4 linked regions of the Homo sapiens genome follow. The protein of the gene in region 4 purifies or fractionates together with the protein of the main gene of each other region. This does not show direct contact. Each region holds a gene or a part of one and is shown on either strand. Other genes may lie near its edges. The genes, in order: RBM25, POC5, MBNL1 and MYO1B.

Region 1 (5,682 bases), on a different chromosome or scaffold from region 4:
TCACCATGCCCAGCTAATTTTTTGTATTTTTGGTAGATGGGGTTTCACCATGCTGGCCAGGCAGGTCTCGAACTCCTGACCTCGTCATCTGCCCACCTTGGCCTCCCAAAGCGCTGGGTTGCAGGCGTGAGCCACCGAGCCCTGCCAAGTGGTTAGTTTTGTAATAACATGTAATGCCTTATATTTAAGTTATCTGTGTCATAACCCATCTGTTACTCTGTAGTGATACAGCTTGAGGAGAAGAGAGCGTTTTTCAATTTGGATTTTATTCCGTCTAAGTGCAGCATCTTTCTCACAGTATGCTCTTAAGAATTTGTTGATGGGTGTGGTCGTCACGCCTGTAATCCCAGCACTTTGGGAGGCTGAGGCGGGCGGATCATGAGGTCAGGAGATCGAGACCATCCTGGCTAACACGGTGAAACCCCCATCTCTACTAAAAATACAAAAAAATTAGTCGGGTGTGGTGGCGGGAGCCTGTGGTCCCAGCTACTCAGGAGGCTAAGGCAGGAGAATGGTGTGAAACTGGGAGGCCAGAGCTTGCAGTGAGCTGAGATCACGCCACTGCATTCCAGCCTGGGCAACAGAGCAAGACTCCGCCTCAAAAAAAAAAAAAGAATTTGTTGAGCAAATTAATTTAAGAAATAAAATGTTTGTTGAATACGTATCCATTGGAGACAGCTTTCAGAATGCTTGTGGTCAACTTATAAAGTTACTGCTAAGTTACATTGTTAAGGAGGCACAAGGCATGAAACTCACCTTGAATAGAGTTGCAGGAATTATGACCAAGAGCCAGGCATGTATGCACATGAGCATGGTTCTTGTATGTATCTGAAAATGTGCACGGTATATGTTTACCAAGTAAGTCGTTAAAAACTTTGGGGCATGCACAACTATTGTAGCACAACTATTGTAGCACATTAGAAGCCAACAATTTTCCCCACATAGAGGGAATAATCTAGACTTCTTAGAAAATAATAATTATTATTATTGAGATGGAGTTTCGCTCTTTTGCCCAGGCTGGAGTGCAGTGGCGTAATCTCTGCTCACTGCAACCACTGCCTTCCGGTTTTAAGCGATTCTCCTGCCTCAGCCTCCCGAGGAGCTGGAATTATAGGCATGCACCACCGCACTCGGCTAATTTTTGTATTTTTAGTAGAGTGGGGTTTCACCATGTTGGCCAGGCTGGTCTTGAACTCCTGACCTCATGATCCGCCCCCGCCTCGGCCTCCCATAGTGCTGGGATTACAGGAGTGAGCCACTGCGCCTGGCCAGAAAATTATTGATAAAGACCTACAAATACTTACTTTGATTCCTTGTTAGGGTTGTAAGTGTATGGTTTCTATAAGTGGTATGTATTCCTGCATTATAAGCACTCGTAGAAAGCAAATAGGAAATAAGCCATCATTACAGCCCCTAAACTCCCGATTCTTGCAGTTTGGTATATTTAGCAATCTGATGTTTTTGTTTGTTTGTTTAATCTACATACAATTTTGCTTTTTCTGAGTGGTAGCTATCACAATTAACTTAAAATTGTATTTTGCCTTTACTACGTAACTGAATTTTCAACTGTTTAAAAGAGTCGTTACTATTTGTGTACCTATTGAGCAAAACAGTCTGAAAACTTGTGAATGGTTTGCAGATGTGTCGTATAGTGTGCTAGTCCTGAAATTTAGGGACCAGAATTTTTTAGCTATTAAGAAAAAGAAAATGAAAATGAAGTAGTATCTCAGGAATAGTTAAATAAAAAAATGAAGCTTTTCTGATGTTAAGAACAAAACCAATTCTGTGTTTAATAGGACTACAGAGATGTTTTTGAGAAAACATGTATGTTTATTAACTCTTGTTGTAGAGTGATTTTGATTTTCTTGCTTGATTTTTCTTTCCCCTGAATTTGCTGTTTTGTTTAAGAATGCAAGGCCAGAAACTGTCACTAATGACGATGAAGAAGCCTTGGATGAAGAAACAAAGAGGAGAGATCAGATGATTAAAGGGGCTATTGAAGTTTTAATTCGTGAATACTCCAGTGAGCTAAATGCCCCCTCACAGGAATCTGATTCTCACCCCAGGAAGAAGAAGAAGGAAAAGAAGGAGGACGTATGTGTTCTGACAACAACATATCATTTCTACCGTTTGTTTTTTATGATATCACTCTTATACTTTGATTACATGTCAGTTTTCTTTTTTCTTTTCTTTTTTTTTTTTTTTTTTTTTTGAGATGGAGGCTCACTTTGTCTCCCAGGCTGGAATGCAGTGGTGCAATCTCAGTTCACTGTAACCTCCGCCTCCGGGGTTCGAGCGATTCTACTGCCTCAGCCTCCTGAGTAGCTGGGACTACAGGCATCCGCCACCATGCCCGGCTAATTTTTTGGTTTTTAGTAGAGACGGGGTTTCACCGTGTTAGCCAGGATGGTCTCAATCTCGTGACCTCGTGGTCGACCCGCCTCGGCCTCCCACAGTGCTGGGATTACAGGCGTGAGCCACCGTGCCCGGCCACATTTTAAACTTTTTTACAGAGACAAGGTCTCACTATGTTTTCTAGGCTGGTCTCCAACTCCTGGGTTCAGGTTATCCTCCTGCCTCCGCTTCCTAAAGTGCCAGGATTACAGTCATGAGCCACTGCGCCCGGCCCCTATTTTACTTTGTTTGCCTATGGTTGTTCTGTCTCTGTTCTAAGCAAGAAACCAGATCTGATTCACTGAAGATTTCCACCCACTCTTAATTTTTAGCTGCCTTTCCTTAAGAAACTATGTCACATTCCCCTCCCTGAACAATAATGGTATTGAATAATCAAACTGGAGGATTCTGAAAGAGCAGTACAACTTGAAACATTCCTCCTCAGTGAATTGATTGCTACCTCTTTGTGGCCCTAAGCTAATTGTCCAGGTTGAAAGAAAAGGTTTAGTTTTCTCATACTTATTTCCTTTGGATAAACTTAGATAAATTATAGGAAGTGTTCTTTTAAAAATACTGGAAGAAGCCAGAAGTGGTGGCTGACACATGTAGTCCCAGCAACTTGGGAGGCTGAGGGGAGAATTACTTGAGCCCATGAACTTGAGTCTAGCCTGGGCCACAGAGCGAGACCCTTCTATAAAGTAAGAAAAAAAATCCCACAAATATTGGAAGTGTTTTATTTATGTTTTTGAGACAGTATCTTGCTCTGTCACACAGACTGGAGGATGGTGGCGCAATTACGGCTCACTGCAGCCTTGAATACCCATCCTAAAGTGATCCTCATGTGTTAGCCTCCTGAGAAGCTGAGACTATAGGCATGTGCTACCATACCCAGCTAATTTTTGTATTTTTTGTAGAGACAGGGTTTCACCATGTTGCCCAAGCTGGTGTTGAACTCCTGAGCTCAAATGATCTGCCTGCCTCAGCCTTCCAAAGTGCTGGGACTACAAGTGTGAATCACTCATAGCTGGCTCAACGTGTTTTATATGCATGCATTATGTAATAAAAAAGTACTACGTGGTATATATATTATGATTAGTTATGAATGGATGGTTACATTTTATATTATTTTAAATTTCAGTGCCTTTTTAGGCCATATTCAGTTTTCTTTGTGGCCAGATACATACATTTTTATTATTTGGTATGTGTTTCCTCGTTTGGTCATAGAACTTTTCTTTTTTGTTCCCGCCCCTACCCCCACCCAAGACGGAGTCTCACTCACTTGCCCAGGCTGGAGTGCAGCAGCTGCGATCTCAGCTCACTGCAAGCTCTGCCTCCCGGGTTCAAGCGATTCTCCTGCCTCAGCCTCCTGAGTAGCTGGGACTACACGTGCCTGCTGCCACGCCCAGCTACTTTTTTGTATTTTTAATAGAGATGGGTTTCACTGTGTTAGCCAGGATGGTCTCGATCTGCTGACCTCGTGATCCGCGTGAGCCACCGTGCCCGACCCATAACTTTTCTAAGGAGGTGTATTCTGTTAGGAATGGTAATTGGTAGGGTCAGTAAGGTACAGGGTAATTGAGGCCTGTAGAATTCATTCTTCCTCTTTCTTCATTAGTGGGAAAGGAGAAAAATAACATATTTGTTTGATGTGGATTGGGAGGAGATAATAAATTCTTCCTCTGTGGCAGGAGTTATGGGTAAATATTGTTGGTATGATTAGAAAGCCCTGCTACTATGAGAGCACCTTCTATATTTCCATTTCTTGGGGGTGTTGGAGTATCCAGAGAGGAGGGTAGTGTGTGATCAGTTATTGTAAAAAGAGTGAAATCACTTCTATTCCCAAGTAATTTGAAATCAAGAAAGCATCACAGAAGTGTACTGTATTGTTCACGTCATAAATGTATAGGGCATTGCTTTGCAGATTAGTATGAGCTCTGTTTTTCTTTTTTAAAAAAGATTCTTGGTGGATTTTTTCACAGATTTTCCGCAGATTTCCAGTGGCCCCACTGATCCCTTATCCACTCATCACTAAGGTTAGTTTAAATTGTAGGCTTTGACAATACCTGTGTTTACTGCTGATTGTTGATTTGTCATTCTTGTCTATCTGATTTTTCACTATTTAACTTTAGATTGTTAGATTTGTTATTGTGGATATTCTGTTTACTTATTTACTCTTTGAGACCTATACAGAATATCTAACCTTTAACTGTTTATATTGAAGTAGGGTGTTCTTTATTCATTCCCTCCTGTGCCCGTTTTCTTTTAGGAGGATATAAATGCTATAGAAATGGAAGAAGACAAAAGAGACCTGATATCTCGAGAGATCAGCAAATTCAGAGACACACATAAGGTAGTATTCTTGTCTTTTCACTTGATACCAATCTAGACTTTTTACAGAATCCAAAGCAAAGAGACAAAAAAAATCAACCTTAAATTAGAATATAATTTTAAATGTTTTTTATAGGTTTAATTGATATTTAGATAGAAAAAAGAAACAGAAGACCAATACCATATTAAAGTGGTCCTTGACATGTTGTGCTTAGTTTTTTCAGTTACTGACTATTCTGCAGTCATCTCACTTTAATATGAATAGAAGCTAATTTTATTTTTAGATTTCAACATAAACATCAAGGTCAGACTTAAATTAGATTCAGGGGGCAGCAGGATAACATACACTGTAGTGTATTTCTGGGGGCAGTTATTTAACTTGATCTTAGGAATACCTTTTCTTTAGAGCTGAGATTAAAATTTACATTTTATATTTGTATAGATTTAAGTTGAGTGGGGGAGATTTTAAACAGTAGGTCAGTGGTTACCAGACTTACCAAATTTTAGATGCATGGAAGAACTGTAAATTCCCATAAAGCTAATCTATTCATTGACCCCCACCATTATGATAGAGATCATATGGTGACTAATGCAAGATGAAACTCTCAGCTTGGAAAGTAACAAGGAATAGGATGTAAGTATGAGCTTCTGTTTTTTATTATATTTATGGATGCCCCCTCAGAAAAATATGCAAAGGGGTAACTGGCTTGGAAATGGGTATTTATGCATAGTAAATCCCACTCACGAGTTTTGCCTATTTGAAGCTTCTCTCAATGACAGTGCATCTGTGAATGTTCGCTGGTGTTGAAAATGATGCTTTTGAACGGTGCAATGCAAACACTGCATGAAATGTATTTTGATGGTCGAGATAATAAGGTGTTGCTGGTTCTTACTGATAGACTGAGAGATCTTTAACTCAGTGAAATGTTAAATGTTCATTTTCTCTTTTATTCTTACTTT
Region 2 (5,682 bases), on a different chromosome or scaffold from region 4:
AGTGGTTCTGGCTTTAACCCTCTTCTCATTCACAGTCGTAGTCCTTAACTCTATTAGGGCTATGGTCCCCTCTGAACGCATATTTAAAGCGAAAGATCTTCTTTCTAGAAAAATACACATTCACATTTATGATAAAAATATTGCATACGAGTCGGGTATAGGGACCTGATATGGTTAGGTCTTGTGTCCCCACTCAAATCCCATCTTCAATTGTAATCTCCACATGTAGGGGAAGGGAAGTGATTGGATTATAAGGGCGATTTCCCCCGTGCTGTTCTCATGATAGTGAATTCTCACGAGATCTGATGGTTTTATAAATGGTAGTTTTTCCTGCACTCTCTCACATACTGTCTCACCTGCCGCCATCTAAGATGTGCCTGCTTCCCCTTCTACCATGATTTTAAGTTTCCTGAGGCCTCCCCAGACATGCGGAACTGTGAGTCAATAAAAATTCTTTTATTTATAAATTACCCAGTTTTGGGCAGTTCTTTTTTTTTTTTTTTTTTTTTGAGACGGAGTCTCACTCTGTCGCCCAGGCTGGAGTGCAGCGGCGCGATCTTGGCTCACTATGAGCTCCGCCTCCCGGGTTCACGCCATTCTCCTGCCTCAGCCTCCCAAGTAGCTGGGACTACAGGCGCCCACCACCACGCCAGGCTAATTTTTTGTATTTAGTGGAGACGGGGTTTCACCGTGTTAGCTAGTATGGTCTTGATCTCCTGACCTCGTAATCCTCCCACCTCAGCCTCCCAAAGTGCTGGGATTGCAGGCATGAGCCACCGTGCCCGGCCTGGGCAGTTCTTTATAGCAGTTTGAAAAACGTACTAATACAGGACCTCAGGATAAGAACTTTTTCTCACATTCCTTTTTTATAGGTGGTCTCATCCATTCCCTTTTTTCAGCAGTTCCCATTATGCCAGTGATTCCTCAAACTGGATCTCCAACTTATACCTCCAGTGCGGCGCTCCCACAATGCTTAACTCCAGGAAACACCATTCACAGTGTAGCCATTGTGAATGGCAGTTCTTGGAGTAGCGCACTACGTAGCCAGTGTGACCACAGACTGCATACTTGCAGCTTTACCCTAGTGCCTCAGAGGCATCCTCACACCCAGCTCATCTGATATGGCACTCATTGTCCTTCCTCCCAACCTGCTCATCTTCCTACCTTCCTTGCCTTGGTGAGTGGCACTATCCATCTAGTTACCCAAACCGGAGATCTGGAAGCCACCAACAGTTCTTTTTAACCCCTTGATCTATTATTGATCATTTTCTCTTTCCATCACCATAACACAACTGTCTTGTAGTCATACCCTCCATCCCCTTCCCATTGCTACTTCCTAGACTTAGGTCATCATTTATCTTCTTAATTACTATCAAAGAGAACATTTATCTCTTAGACTACTGCAGTCAGCTCTCAATTGATCTCTCTCTCTTTTTTTTTTGAGACGGAGTCTCTGTCACCCAGGCTGGAGTGCAGTGGTGCGATCTTGGCTCACTGCAGCCTCCACCCCCAGGGTTCTAGCTATTCTCCTGCCTCAGCCTCCCAAGTAGCTGGGATTACAGGCACCTGCCACCAGGCTCGGCTAATTGTTTTGTATTTTTAATAGAGACAGGGTTTCGCCATGTTGGCCAGGCTGGTCTCAAACTCCTGACCTCAGGTGATCCACCTACCTCAGCCTCCCAAAGTGCTAGGATTACAGGCATGATTCACTGCACCCAGCCTGATCTCTCTTAATATCCAAATTCATCCTCAACGCTGCTGGAATGATCTTTCTGATCATGTAACTTTTAAAAAATATTTCAATAACTTGTCTAGAATAAACACCCAGATTTTTAATATGACAAGTTTTGACCTTCCATGATCTGGCTGCTCCTTACTTTTTGTTTCATCCTTAGCCAATCCTTTGCACCCATTGCTTTGTCCTTACCAAACTGCTTGCTGTTCGTGGCATACATGTCCATGGCTCTGTCTTTGCTTATATTGCTCTACTGCCTAGAATATCTACACCTGTGTTTATACCTTTTATCCATCTTTCAGGATGAGACCTACTCATCTTTCAGATCTCAACACCTGGGTCATCTTCTCTAAAAACTTTCTGTGCCTCCTTTCCTGCTTATTTACAGTCATGCAATCTTACCCCATGAAAAATAGCTACTCCTATCTCTCTACTTTGTATCTGTTATTTTAGGGCCTATCAGCAGTTTATTCATCAGTCGGTCACTTATATAATATACATGCCTGGCCCTCTCTACAGATTGTAAACTCCTTAAGAATGAGGACTTCATTTTACATTCCTCACCAATGTCTTACATATTACTGGTATTCAGATAGTTCGAATAGTCACTATTTGTTCTTTGAATAATTCGGTTACTTGTTACTAAAAGTACTTTTAATGATTTTTTGATTAGGACTTTCAACAAATTCTCTATGCATATATTTGATTCTGTTGTTCTGTATAAGCTCACTTTTCTTAAAATAATATTTCCAAAGGTAAGTTTCCCAAGAAGGGAATTTGCACAAATTGTTTGTTCTCTCTTGGTTCTGTGTCTTAGAGGAAAGTACACAGCACCCAGGTTGTCACACATTGCTCAAGAACAGTGATCACAATCTATTATGCTCAACAGGCCCCGCTGGGGATTTTTCTGAAGACCTGACTACGTTATAAACTCACTAATATTGGGACTGGGTCTTCAACTGTTTTTTGCCCAGTGATTTTTTGCCTGTAGGTACTCAATATGTTGAATGAATGATTTTAGCATATCACAGGAAGATTGCAGATTTGGATACTGTTGCACTTATATATATCTGGAAAGGATTTTATCTTAAATATCAAGGAAAAAAGCTAAAGTTAGCTTCTACTGTTTTAGAGCATTTGTGCAGAATGTCATCAGATGAGGAGAAATACTCACTTCCAGTTGTGCAAAATGACTCCAGTCGAGGCAGTTCTGTCTCTTCGAATCTTCAGGTAGGAAAAAATTTCTAAATTTACCATGACTTTTTTTATTTTAAACAAATGAATGTAAGGGAAAACTAGGATTTTTTAATAATTTTTTCATCCATTTACAAGGGAGTTTTTCAATTTATAATAATATCAAACTTCAGGAATTACTGTACACATTTTAGGAGTGACTTTACATTGTTTTAACTTTTCAGAAAATATTGATGAACTCTTCATACACTCTGTACAAAGGCTTCAACCAACACAGTAAGAGGTGAAACAAATGTTCAAGAAACATTTTTTTGTTTAAATTTTTTTCATTTTAGCTACCTCTCATGAATGCTACTTTCACTTTTAATGCAAATTAATACAATATCAAACCATCCAAAGTTCTAGAGCTCAAGATTCCCTTGTGTTCTACTTGCTGAGGTTTGGTCTCTGTTGTCACAACATTCAGTACAATCTGCTGCCCAGGACCTGGACATTGACAGATAAAATGAAGTGGGTCAGTTAACTACAGAGGGTGTGGTATTTACATGAAATGTTTTAAATTTCTCTTATTTCTAAATATTTCATCATCAAAAATATGGATTTAGATTTCTGGAGTAGATTTTAAATATGAGAATAATGACATGGTATATCTTAAATTTTACAGTTGTATTACTCAAGGGGAAAGGCTGTTTATGCCTAAGCATATGAAATTGTTATTGATTCTGTACGATATGAGAAAAGCTTTAGGAAAATATTTTATGAAACAAATTTGTTCCTTTAATCGAAATTATGGATTTCAAAATGGGGAAGGTATTGGGAAAATATCTGAATATTTACAGGATAAAACTAGTCTGGAGTTGTGGCAGAGCTTTTGCACCCTAGCCTTCCCTTTTGATGGTACCTGTCCCATGTAGTCCTCTCTTCAGGTGACAGTACTTCCTCCACCCTTCATCGCTGTCTGATTGAAACTTGAAGATAGAACTGATTAACTCATTTATACTAAAATGTAAACACCTTGTGAGCTCTCAAATTTCATTTCGTGAAGAGATAAAGCTTTAAATCAAAAGAATAACTCTCTAGAGTGGAATTTTAGAGAGACGGAAGAAGAACCTGCCAGAAATTATTTTGTGTTATTGTTTACCCACCTATAATGTAAGCTCAACTGAGAGTCTATTACTGTCAACTAATGTTCCTACTGGTTCTTGGACTGAAGTTGAAAGCCTCTCCATATTCCCTGTACATACAGTGTTATTACTTTGGGTTTCACTACTGGAAGCACTTCAAAATATAAATACAAAAAAAAATCTTAAAAATAACATAAAATACACATTTTTACATATGTAGTAAATATGTAAATCCAAACATTTAATACAAAAGCCCCTCATAAATAAATATTCCTCTTAAGGAACTTTTTTGTTACTCTCTTTTTATGCGAATGCTTCATAAGCCAGAAGGTGGTAAATGCTGAGGGATGGGCAGCATCCATAGTGCTTATACACTGAAAATTTCCTCTAACCACAGCTCCTATCAGCCAAGTTGCTCTGACTCTAATGGTTGAGGCATGGGTGGAGCTATATTTCAGGGTCATATCAATTCAGCTCTTGGGGGTTGGGGAGGGGGGCAAAATTACAAGTTTTGAATGTTAACAGAGGTTATGTTTGGCAATTAAGAAAGCCAATATTGTTTATTTTGATTCTTAATTTTAAATTTTATTTTTAAATAACTTATTTGGCTTGTGTCTACATATATGAAACTCTAAAATAGTCATTTAAATAACTGATTTTTTCTAAATGTTTTCTTGAAATAAGTTGGAATATATGGTCATGGAATACTATTGACATATACTTATTTATTTCCCCTTTAAGCCATAGCAATTGTGGTAAAATATATGAAATATATGAATATGTATGAAGTATATGATTTGAAATATGTGTTTGGATCTTTTTTTTCCTTCTCTTATCCAGAGCAGAAGTCAGACTAGGGAAGCCACAAGTGAAAGCCACTGACTTCCACTTCTCCCTCCGTTCCTACATGCTAGAGGTGGTGATAGGCTAACTCTGAGTAGAGCTGACTTGGCTAAATCTAGTTGCAACTGACACCACAGCAGGAACACTATAAAAAGTTTATGAACCTCACAATATAAGATCACCATCATATTAATCTGCTCAGGCTACCATAACAAAGTACCATAAATTCATAGGCTTAAACAACAGACATTTATCTTCTCACAGTTCTGGAGGCTAGAAGTCCCAGATCACAGCCCAAAAGGGTCAGTTTCTGGTGAGGGCTCTCTTTGTGGATTGCAGACAGGTGCCTTCTTGCTGTATCTTTGCATGGCCTTTCCTCAGTACAGTATGTGCAGGTGGGAGGAGAGCATGCACAAGGTTCCTGGTGTCTCTTCTGATGAGTACATTAATGCTCTCAGGGCCCCAACCAATGACCTTATTTAACCTTAATTACTTTCTTGAAGGCCTCATCTCCAAATACAGCCACACTGGGTGTTAGGGCTTCAGCATATGAATTTTGAGGGGACACAAACATTCAGACTCCGTAACTCCATAACAGCCACACTTTTATATATTCTTAGCCAAAATCAAAAGTATATTTTGGGTGTTTGGGAAGTATAATAGTGCTTTAACAGAAACCAAGTAAGGGTGGTTTAAGTGGGTTCCTTACAGTTTCATTCTGTCTCTCATAAATTCTGAGCTGATACGTAGTCCTGAGATCATCTGAGGACCCAATCCCTTCTCTCT
Region 3 (4,858 bases), on a different chromosome or scaffold from region 4:
CATGCCAGAAAAATCTGTTTCAAGCTCTTATAGTCAATTAGGTGTGTTTGGTATGTATATATTTAACTAAATTCTGTTTCTTAGCAATAATCCAGGTTGAAAAAAATTTCTAAAAATAATTAGCAAACCAGTAGTTTTGTCTGTATTGAAGCTAAGCTTTTAATGTTCTGTTCATTTAACAAATGATTGCTCATCTTCATGAGGAGTTGCAACATTTAAACTGGTTTTTGAGTCACTAGATTATGATTTCTTTCATTTTCAAGGTTGTATTGTGAAGCATACTTTTAATATATGTAAATATTCGCTGCTGAGAACAAATTTCATGTAAAAACTGGAACTGTTAATCCACAAGTACATTGTAATGTCTATTACAGCTTAATTCATGAGTAATAATTCTGTAATTCAAAAAGAATGATTTTTATTTTCTTAGTTTTAGGTGAAAAAAGTTCAACAAACTGAATTACCCAAAGCCATCACTTAAAGTATCATTCTTTTTTTTTCAAACATGCATTATGCTAATCAAGCACCCAAAAAGAATAAATCTTGTTTAATAGAACATATTACATGAATTTTAATTTTGTAGACCAGACCTTTACTCTTGAAACCTTATTAAACTTCAGAAAAGAAGTTTAAATTTTGCCCTACAACAATTGTGCTAAAAAAGAGCTCTGTATATTAGGCCCCCTGATTCTGCAAATGTATTTTATACTTTTAGTTTAGGATTGGTAAATTTTGGAGCACATTCTACAGTTTTATTAAATTGTACGTGTTATTTCATTCGTGTAGAGATGATAGACAAATTTTGATCTGTCTACTCTTGTAAAATGGTTTTTGTTTTTATATGAAGATATAATGTAAATATACTGGTTAATCAAAAAGAAAATTTTCATATTAAATGTATATTAGAAACTGCTTTTAGATATTACCTGTTCTAACAAAGCTTATCTCTTTTTCCCTTGTAGATCATGCTAAAGAGGAAAGGACAGTGTGCTTGGTTAGAGTAAAGGACGAGGTCATTAGCCATATTGTATATATCGTCAAGCAACACACACAAAAGTTCCTCAGCCACAAGACATCCACATATTGCATGTTAACCAGAAGAAAAGACAACATTTTCCGGAAATCCACTGCACACTGTTGCCTATACACTTTGTACATTTAATTGATATTTGTGCTGAGGTGATATTCCTGTCTAAAAGAACAACATTGTCTTTCTTTTCTAGCACAGAGTTATGCATTCAAAGATGCATACCTAGTTAGTTTCCTATATATTCATGCCATCTTGAAAAGACAGACTATGGTGTAACCATGATTCTATTATGTATTGGTACGTCTGTAGACCAAGATATAATTTTTTAAAAATAAGTTTATTTCTTTCAAGGTTTACAAATAACAAAGGTGCACCTTGTATTTAAAATTGCCATTATAGATGAGAGCGTGCATGCACAGTCATTTTTGTTTAAGAGTAATATTTTTAATGTAATAGATTGTAAGACGTGGTGAGGGAGGGATCTGACAGAGATGAATGTGCCAAGCAAAACCACAACTGTGTATATTTTAAAGCACATCATGGCTTTAAGTACCATGTTGTTAAGGATTCTCATGAAGTGCCATAGACTGTACATCAAATTAGAGTATTATTTCTTCAGTGTTATTGTTTTCAGAGCCACATTTTGTTGCATATTTGCTAGTACTAATCAGTCAAAGGGCACCATTCTTTTTTTTTTTTTTTGAAACCAAAGCTGTCTCAGAAATGGCCAATTTAACTTTACAGTAACAATAGACAGCACAACACAAACTCTCTCAATACAGATAAACTCACACATACTGGAGATATATATATAATAGATATATATAAAATTATTTTAATGCATTGTAGTGTAATATTTATGCATACTATACTGTATAACATGTTATTCAAAAGGGATTGCCATTTCTGAGACACAGTAACAAAAAAATGAGGAAATTATTTTGCTTCTATTTATAGCCTCTGTCAAAAGTCAAAAGACTATAAATGCTTTGCAAAAATGGTTTCACGTTTGCTTAAATGCTTCATCACAGTCACATTCAAAATAGTGACTCTAAACAAAGAAGAAAGCAGCACTGTCATCAGATGCATGATAAACCAAAATATGAAAATGGGAAATGTTTAATTAACCTAGTAATTGGGTGGGTTAAGTACATGGGTGAATTTTATATGTGATTTTTGTTTTGTTTTGTTTTGTTCAGATTAACTGCTTATAGCCTTAGAAAGCCTTTTACAAAATTAAAAAAAAAATAGATGTGCATTCAGTTTTTAAGAATGGAATCATCCAAAGGAATTCCTTTTTTTGAGGTTTGGATGTTGCAGCTAGTAAAGGATATTTTTGCTCTGTTCAGCAGTTCTAAAAATTGCTGAAGTAGGGGCCAGGTCACTGGTAGTTATAGTATGGAATGGGAGAAGTGAAAGTTCAGTTATAGAACTTTCCATACTTCCAAGTTTACTGCAAGTTTTTATGCTTGAGAGAGATGCTTTCTAATATAAGACTGATGTGTTGATTTTACTGATTGTACTGTACATCTATTAAAGCCTTAGATTATTACATTACGGGTTGGAACCCATACCAATGTAATTTCAATCGTGTTAAGAAAGTAATGGTGACTTCACATGTTATTGTAGTTAGTTACATTATAGAATATTACTTATTTTTCTTGTTAAAATGTAGTTTTTCATTTCCTACATTTATTAGATTTTCATTTTCTATTAACAATTGAATACCATTTCAGTTTATAGACTTGTTTTATTAGATTTTACCAATGAATTTTTCAAAATACAAAAAAAAGTAGTTTTTCCTTCATAACATACTCAGTTTTGAATTACATGTAGTGTCACATGAATATTCGTATTGTTAACTAAATGATTTATATTTTACTGATTTAATATTACAGTGTAAGAATGTCAGTCATTGTTAGTTCTTGTCTAGTTTTCATTAAAAGAACAAAGATCTTTTATATGGATATCTTATAAATATATAATCATTGCTAAGTAAGAAGTTAAGTTGTTGCTATCGCAACAATCCTGGCAGACAATTGAGTAATATTTTGATGATTTATTTTGTTTGTAATTAGTTATTATAAGAAGATCTAGATCCTAGATATTAGAATAAAATTTATTTTCTACTGTATCCATTTCAAATGTTAAAATATTGTTTAATATTTTTGAAATCCCTGAGTATCAGGCCTTGTTATAAATAAGCTGCATAATCAATAAATAGAACAAGGGACTTTTTGTTGATAATCCAAATACTCAAAGTTTACGTAATGAAAATTATAGCGTGTGTGCAAACTCTTGAGGGTTGATTATGCTGCAATTTAGCATGTTGGAACGTCTAGGGAGAAGGTTGACTTTTTGCACTTCTGTATATAGTCAAAAGAGAGAAACCTGTATAATAGTAAGATCTTATTTTGAATAAAAACGTCTATAATTACAAGGAGTTTTGTTAAGGCTAATACAATGACAGACTGAGCAAAATTGCTTGCAAAAGTGGCACAGAGTTAGCACTCCATACCCCTTCAAACATGTTGCTTTGCTTTCTTGTGGACAGCTTGTAGTTTGCCAGGATTTTTTCAGCTGGAAAGATACGCCATCCTTTCAAACCCTCATGACTGACAAAAACTCCATGGGGCCAAATCTGCCTGAAGATCATTACCAAAAATAGCAGGTACTTCTACCATTAAGGTGAAATCATGGATCAGATATTCCTTACATTTTTCAAAACTACTGCATGTTTAAAACTTCAACAAAAAAAGAGAGAAAGAACTATACTAAGAACATATATTATTCAGATCAGTTTCTGCCAATTTCAGTGGTTTATTGTTCACAAAAAAATCTTCAAAACAAGTATTGACTTTCACAAAATTTAAATCATAAACAGGCAAACCAAACAGCACACTGTAGCTATAGTTGTTATGTGATTGTTTTTTAATTGCTGTAGGATCCTGTTCTTTCAGCAGGTGAAAAATAAAACGCAGTTCAAATTTCATGGTTTTAATTTTCAACTCAGAAGCACTCAAAAATGCAAAATGTGATAATGGGCACTTGTTTAAAAGAATTAGTGTATCCAGCCTTCACTCCAGCTGGTTAAAAATGTTGCACTTATCAGCAACCCTACCACTTTCATCTGCTGAAAGGACAAATGTGCTTGGTTTTACTATTATGTAATCACAACTTACTTTCTGCTTGTAGTTGCTTAAAATTATGTATTTTGTCTTGGGCTGCAATTTGTTTTATGCTTATTTTATTATTACTGCAGTAGTTGACTTTGCTGTATGGAAAAATAAAGTGAAATTGCCCTAATAAAACTTCTCTTTCTTAAGTATATTCGTGTATCTGAGATTGAATACTAAATTATTTTTGCGTGTTTCATGTATTCATGCATATGTATCTATCTTTACAAACATATTGATGTATAAATTTGTTACCTGGTTTTAACTGATTGCAACTGCGAGGAAGGCATTTGTTGTCTTTCTCACTAATTATCCTTTGACACTGAGAGGGAGAATCTAAATCAGCATATATTGCCCTCCTGTGCCCAATGTTTTCTGAAATTCTTGCCTTCCCCTGTCTGACACTTTAAGCGCTGATTGAAATAGTTTTAAGTGTCAGGGCAAAAAACGGTAAGAAAAAAATTATTATACATTATAGATCACTATCTATCTTTTATTAAAGAAATCTTATTTGCCTGACTGCTGCGTCAGCTGATTAGGACTGGAAATCAGGCAATCCAAGAGAGGTGATGGCACTGTATTCAGAGGGATGAAAGAAATTATGCATATGATCTATGAGGCAGGCCATGATATTACTCCTGAGGGGTGTGTG
Region 4 (5,682 bases):
TCAGAGAACAATTTTTTCACAGTACATCGTTATTAGCATCCTGTACAAGCAATGTTCCTAGAATCCCGGTTTGGGAAATGCTTAAAAATAGCAGTACTTTGTGGTCTGGATGTTGGTGTGATTTCCTTTCTGTGTAAAGATGAGTTTATTCACATAGTGGGACAACTATGAGACTGCTTCGTCTGTACACTGAGGAGCTTCTGCTGTCTGGGATACATACGATCTTCCCATGGTGAGTGAGAATTAGCAGCCCCACCAAAGCCCATTCTCCCAGATTATGAAAAACTTCAACTATTATAAAGGGATTTTAAAGCTCTAATAGGCCCTAACGTGTTAAATCCTTAACTGAAACACACCAACCATTATTTTTTTCCTAATTTCTTTATGAGAAAGATCTCATTAACAAGAAAAGTTATTTAGTCCGAACAGCAATTTCCAATATAGAGTATACATGAAGCCCAACCTCCCACCCAAATCTAAACACTTCAATGAGAACTTAAGAAAAGCCCACAGCACTGCAAAATCCTAACATATCAAAGAGAGTCTGACTTACAAAGGGGCAGAAATGGGTGTAAATTTATTTTAGAAAGACTTTTAGGAAGAGTTGAAACAGAATAGACTAGAAAATTCTTAATTAGAAAAGAATATAATTTCCTGAGCAATCTAGACATGCAAAGAAGTATATAAGCAGGTAAACAATCTATTGAAAGGTAACCAATTAAGTATAATCAACACAGTAACTCAGATTTCTCCAAAACACTTACATAGATAGATACAATAAATCTGGGGATGCCCCAACCTGTATGCAAATAACTAACTTCTATATTCAGAACCCTAATGAGAAATTGAAGAAGCAAATTTCAAATTTATACCAGTCTCAGATGTCACCACATCAAAGAGGCCTCCCTGACTCTTTTTTTTTTTCTGAGACGGAGTCTCACACTGTCACCCAGGCTGGATTGCGGTGGCACGATCTCGGCTCATTGCAATCTCCGCCTCCCGGGTTCAAGAGATTCTCCTGCCTCAGCCTCTTGAGTAGCTGGGATTACATGCGCCCGCCACCACGCCCAGCTAATTTTTTTTGTATTTTAAGTAGAGACGGTTTCACCATGTTGGCCAGGCTGGTCTCGAACTCCTGACCTCGTGATTCGCCTGCCTCGGCCTCCCAAAGTGCTGGGATTACAGGCGTGAGCCACTGCGCCTGGCCTACTCTCTGACTCTTAACCCTTTTTTTCCTCCATAAACACTTGTTAGCCAAAATCTTATCAACTATTTCATCATTTTATTTGTACATACTGGTCTCTTCCACTAGGATGTCAGGTACATGAGGTTGGAGACTTGGTCAGTGTCATTCACTGCCCATTTATCATGTGGAACAACTACTAGACACATACCTGGTACTTAATAAGTAGTTGTATTAATGAATGAGATCGAGAGCTGAACTAAAACAAAAAAGCTGAAAGAGAAAAAGGGTTTTCAAACAATACATGAACGTACTCATCGGAAATCTCAATATTGAGCTTCTGTTTGGTTTGGCTGAGAGTTGTGCGATAGAGCTTGGTGGCCATTTCAATCAGGTGATCACTGCTGAAGAGAAAGTCTCCTTTACTAGCTGCTTCTGAGCCCTGCAAGGACAAACCAAGAGTCGGTCATAATTAAAGATACCTTAGAAGGTCAATATTTACAGGCTTGGCTAAAAACATACTTACAGTCTCTTTAAAACATCAGATCCTGGAATCCATTCTCCCAAGGTAAACAATAATGACAAAAGCAGTGTTTCTTCCAACTTGCTCAGAGCACTTTAGTAAGGTTACCTAATCCCCTTCTACCTAAAGTCGGTGGATGCAGCAGAAGCACCATGTGCATCACTTGGAGCTTGCTAGAAAAGCAGAATCTCAGGCCCTACCACAGCCCCAGTGAATATGAAACCACAACGCAACCTCCAGGTATGGGTTTACACATTCAGGTTTGAGGAGCATGGACCTATCCCGCAACTCTTCTGAAGGACTTGATTAAAAAACTTTTCAGTGATTTGGTTAAAACCCTAATGACAACACTTCCAACAAATATCCTAGGGCAGTGGCTCTCAGCCTTAGCTGTGCAAGGGAATCATCTGGGTTTATTCAAAAAAAAAACAAAACAAAACAAAAAAAAAAACATGATGCTTGTGCCCCCTCTGAGAAATTCTAATTTGATTTCATAGGGGTATGGCCTGGGCATCAGAATTTTTAAAGTTCCCAAGCTGTTTACATGTGTCACTGAGGTTGAGAATCACTGTCCTAGTATTTGATATGCCCCCTTTAAGTTAAGATCCAAAGTAGGGTAAACAGGCTAAGGGAAGCTTTGGGGATTTTTCTAAGTTTAGGGTTGGCCAGAGAGTAACATTATTAGCTAGACACATGTCCCTACATATGATCAATATTTGTTAACTTTTGTTTATTCAGTGACTATGTGTTATGTGACAGGCCCTGTTCCTCCAGTGTCTCATTTAATCCTTAATCCTTACAACAATGCTATGAAGTAGGCACTCTTACTATCCCCATTTTAAAGATGAGAAAAAGTAGGTAGGCACACACAAATTAAATGCCTTGGCCAAAATTATCATAAAGTGAGTGAGACCAACTCCAGAACCTACATGTAACCACTGCATCCAAGCCAGGAGTCCTGGTTAAGCTAAAGGCACAGAACACTAAAAATTATTTAGGTTAAAATTAACTGGCGGTTATTTTATTTTAGTTGTATCCTTTAATGTAAACCCCCAGATTAGAGATGAACATTAAGACATTTACTAAGTTGATACATAGAAGAAAAAACAGGAGAAAACAAAATTTAAAACATCTTGATATTTCTATGTATTAGTCTCAAAAAGTAAAGTAAACTGGCCAATAAAAGTGATTAACTTTATTCAATTACTGAAAAACTGAGTCGGAGATTTTACATAGGGGTGAATATCCAAAATTTGCAAATTAGCAAGGCAGATATATAAACTGCGATAGGATTATCAGATATGGAAATTTTTTAAATCAATGGCTGAGAGATTAAGCACAGAAATCTTCTGTTGAACCTTTACCTCTTTGAGGTGGACGGCGAAGAAGCCATCATTTTGTGAGCTCATTGATACCTTGGTCACATCCACCAATGGAACCTCTGACTTGATTTGTCCAGACTTTTGGTCAGCAAGAAGGAGATTATTGTTTGTTAAGAGGAAAATCCGAGATGTACTCTAAATCAAAATAAAAAATAGTATAAAACCAATGATCACAAATACTCAAAAATGGTCCATGAGTTTAAGGCATTATTTGCAAAAATTCCAATATCCTTCAACAAACATACCTATGTAAACCAAGAACGCAGTAAAGAACATAAATAATATGTTTTATTTCATAAAAATGTCAGAGAACAAGCAAAATTCCACCTAAGCTTAAAGGTAAGGGGAAATAGCCGCCTTCATAGTTAACTCTACTGAGAACATGAAATGCAAATTTTTACATTCAGAAAACAGGGTGACTATCCCAACTAATAGGTACTTCTTATCAGTCTTCAAGGTTAGCATTTTTACCTTCCCATTAGCACGGTTAATTTTGTTCACGACTTCAGCAATGATGATCTTTTCTTCAATGGCATCTTTGAGTTTCTTATACTTGGGGTTCTTGTTGATTTCCAGGTAAGCCCCTTGGAATGGTTGCCCAACACTAAAGGAAAAAAATTCCTGCACATTAGAAATAGTTTCAAATGAAAGTACCACTAAAAAAAGGAAACAGGTCAGTTGATTCTAAGGAGTAGCTGACAACTTCATAAAAATTGATTTCAATTTATTTTATATATTACACTTACATCTGTCCTAAATATAAGTTGGAAATGAAACCTTAAACCTATTTCAAATACACTTTTGGGGTGATCATGGCATTTGGTGGGCAGGACTTTGATAATAATCTTATCACACGGAACAATCAAGACAGAAATCACTCATAAGAACAACAGCTAAGACTCAAGTACATGGCCTCATGTGAAGGAAAAGGCAATTTCTTCTAATCTGTTAATATAAAGTTAACAGCTGCTCACAAAGGATTTACTAACGCCTTCAAACAATATGTGGCAGTGAAAAGAGCTGAAATCATTACCATCACCTGCTCTAAAGAAAAATTTCATTTCTTGCAGAGAATAAGAAAATCAATAGGCCTTCTGGGAAAGAACAGATCCAGGGCAATCACTTTAGAAGAAAACTATAGAACACTTAATATTAACATGTAACTGTGGTTCTAAGTAGGCAATACAGATGGTCTCTGACTTGGTTTGACTTAGGGTTTTTCAGCTTTACAGTGGTGCTCATAAACCATTCTGTTTTTCACTTTCAGTACAGTGGTCAATAAACCACATGAGATATCCAACACTTTATTATAAAACAGGCTTTGTGTTAGATGATTTTGCCCAACTGTAGGCTAATGTAAGTGTGCTGAGCATGTTTAAGGTAGGCTAGGCTAAGTGATTGTGTTCAGTAGGTTAGGTGTATTAAATGCATTTTCAACTTATGATATTTTCAACTTCATATGACATATGACAACTTCATAAAAATTGACTTCAATTTATTTTATACATTACGCTTGCATCTGTCCTAAATATAAGTTGGAAATGAAACCTTAAACCTATTTCAAATATATTTTTGAGGTGATCATGGCATTTGGTGGGCAGGACTTTGATAATAATCTCATCACATGGAACAATCAAGATAGAAATCACTCATAACCCATATGATGGATTATCTGTGTGTAACTGCATCATAAGTTAAGCAGCATCTGTATATGAAAGGAGAATCAAGCCTCTTCTCCTAGAATATGCCTCTAAATGGACAGAAGTAACCAAAGCAAACATTCAGAATCAGGGCAATTTTTTTTTTCCCAAACAAACTAATTTTTGTAAAAGGTTAACTGTACACTTATCACTAAGATATCAATTTCCCTAAAGACTTGTCGGGGGACTCTTTCAGGACAGGTTCATCAAAGGCACCAAGGAAAAACTGCTGCTTCAAGGAATCTATAAGCTTCATTTTGAGCTACAAAGTTCTGGCAATTTGCAAATACAAATTTAAATGCTTATGTTGTGGGTGGAGGATAAGGGAAGAAAAATCCACGTAGGTGGTCAGCGTTTCACAGCTCTCAGGATATAAAAGGCCAACTCCCATAAGAGCTGCCACTTTGCAGGGTGGTGGGAGGCTAAATTATTCCACCTCTCTCACTGCTGTGGGGTGAGTGTGCCACTATCCCTGAAAACTGATAAGACTACCCAAAAAGGACTTGGCTTGAAGTTAACTTTTTTTGGTTCCTATTCAACTGTGTTTTAAATTATAAAAATGCTAACAGGCTTTTAAATTGTTTCCTCAAAGATGTATTTTCCAGCCTGTAGTTTCTGAAGAGTCATCCACAGGAAATGTTCATTAAGAAGGTTATTCCCTAATTTAAAAATGTATAAAAAAAAAGCTGAATAAAATTAGTTGCTGAAGCAAGCATACAGACAAATTCTCCTGTTTGAATATGCTTTATATAACAGGCACTTTGGACAACTTTGGATTTAGACACTGTGTTTGACTTAAGGGAGTATGTATCACCTCAAGTAGCCACATCAGCTAACCAATGAAGTTGTACAATTTAAAATATTTAAACCCAGTGAGTCTGGCAATGTATATTC

What was found.
Region 1: the proteins of MYO1B (region 4) and RBM25 purify together in Homo sapiens (affinity purification with mass spectrometry; one large-scale study listed by BioGRID and IntAct). This does not show direct contact.
Region 2: the proteins of MYO1B (region 4) and POC5 purify together in Homo sapiens (co-immunoprecipitation; one large-scale study listed by IntAct). This does not show direct contact.
Region 3: the proteins of MYO1B (region 4) and MBNL1 purify together in Homo sapiens (affinity purification with mass spectrometry; one large-scale study listed by BioGRID and IntAct). This does not show direct contact.

What each region holds. Positions count from the first base shown.
Region 1 is NC_000014.9:73,095,007-73,100,688, forward strand, and holds part of RBM25 (RNA-binding protein 25), read left to right. Parts: intron 1-1,908; coding exon 1,909-2,094; intron 2,095-4,373; coding exon 4,374-4,427; intron 4,428-4,660; coding exon 4,661-4,744; intron 4,745-5,682. UniProt on the Homo sapiens protein: RNA-binding protein that acts as a regulator of alternative pre-mRNA splicing. Involved in apoptotic cell death through the regulation of the apoptotic factor BCL2L1 isoform expression.
Region 2 is NC_000005.10:75,710,137-75,715,818, reverse strand, and holds part of POC5 (centrosomal protein POC5), read left to right. Parts: intron 1-2,867; 5' UTR 2,868-2,881; coding exon 2,882-2,965; intron 2,966-3,158; exon of another isoform or gene 3,159-3,212; intron 3,213-3,386; exon of another isoform or gene 3,387-3,434; coding exon of another isoform or gene 3,435-3,443; intron 3,444-5,682. UniProt on the Homo sapiens protein: Essential for the assembly of the distal half of centrioles, required for centriole elongation. Acts as a negative regulator of centriole elongation.
Region 3 is NC_000003.12:152,461,423-152,466,280, forward strand, and holds the end of MBNL1 (muscleblind-like protein 1), read left to right. Parts: intron 1-962; 3' UTR 963-4,358; downstream 4,359-4,858. UniProt on the Homo sapiens protein: Mediates pre-mRNA alternative splicing regulation. Acts either as activator or repressor of splicing on specific pre-mRNA targets. Inhibits cardiac troponin-T (TNNT2) pre-mRNA exon inclusion but induces insulin receptor (IR) pre-mRNA exon inclusion in muscle.
Region 4 is NC_000002.12:191,412,058-191,417,739, reverse strand, and holds part of MYO1B (unconventional myosin-Ib), read right to left. Parts: intron 3,693-5,682; coding exon 3,560-3,692; intron 3,224-3,559; coding exon 3,071-3,223; intron 1,626-3,070; coding exon 1,498-1,625; intron 1-1,497. UniProt on the Homo sapiens protein: Motor protein that may participate in process critical to neuronal development and function such as cell migration, neurite outgrowth and vesicular transport.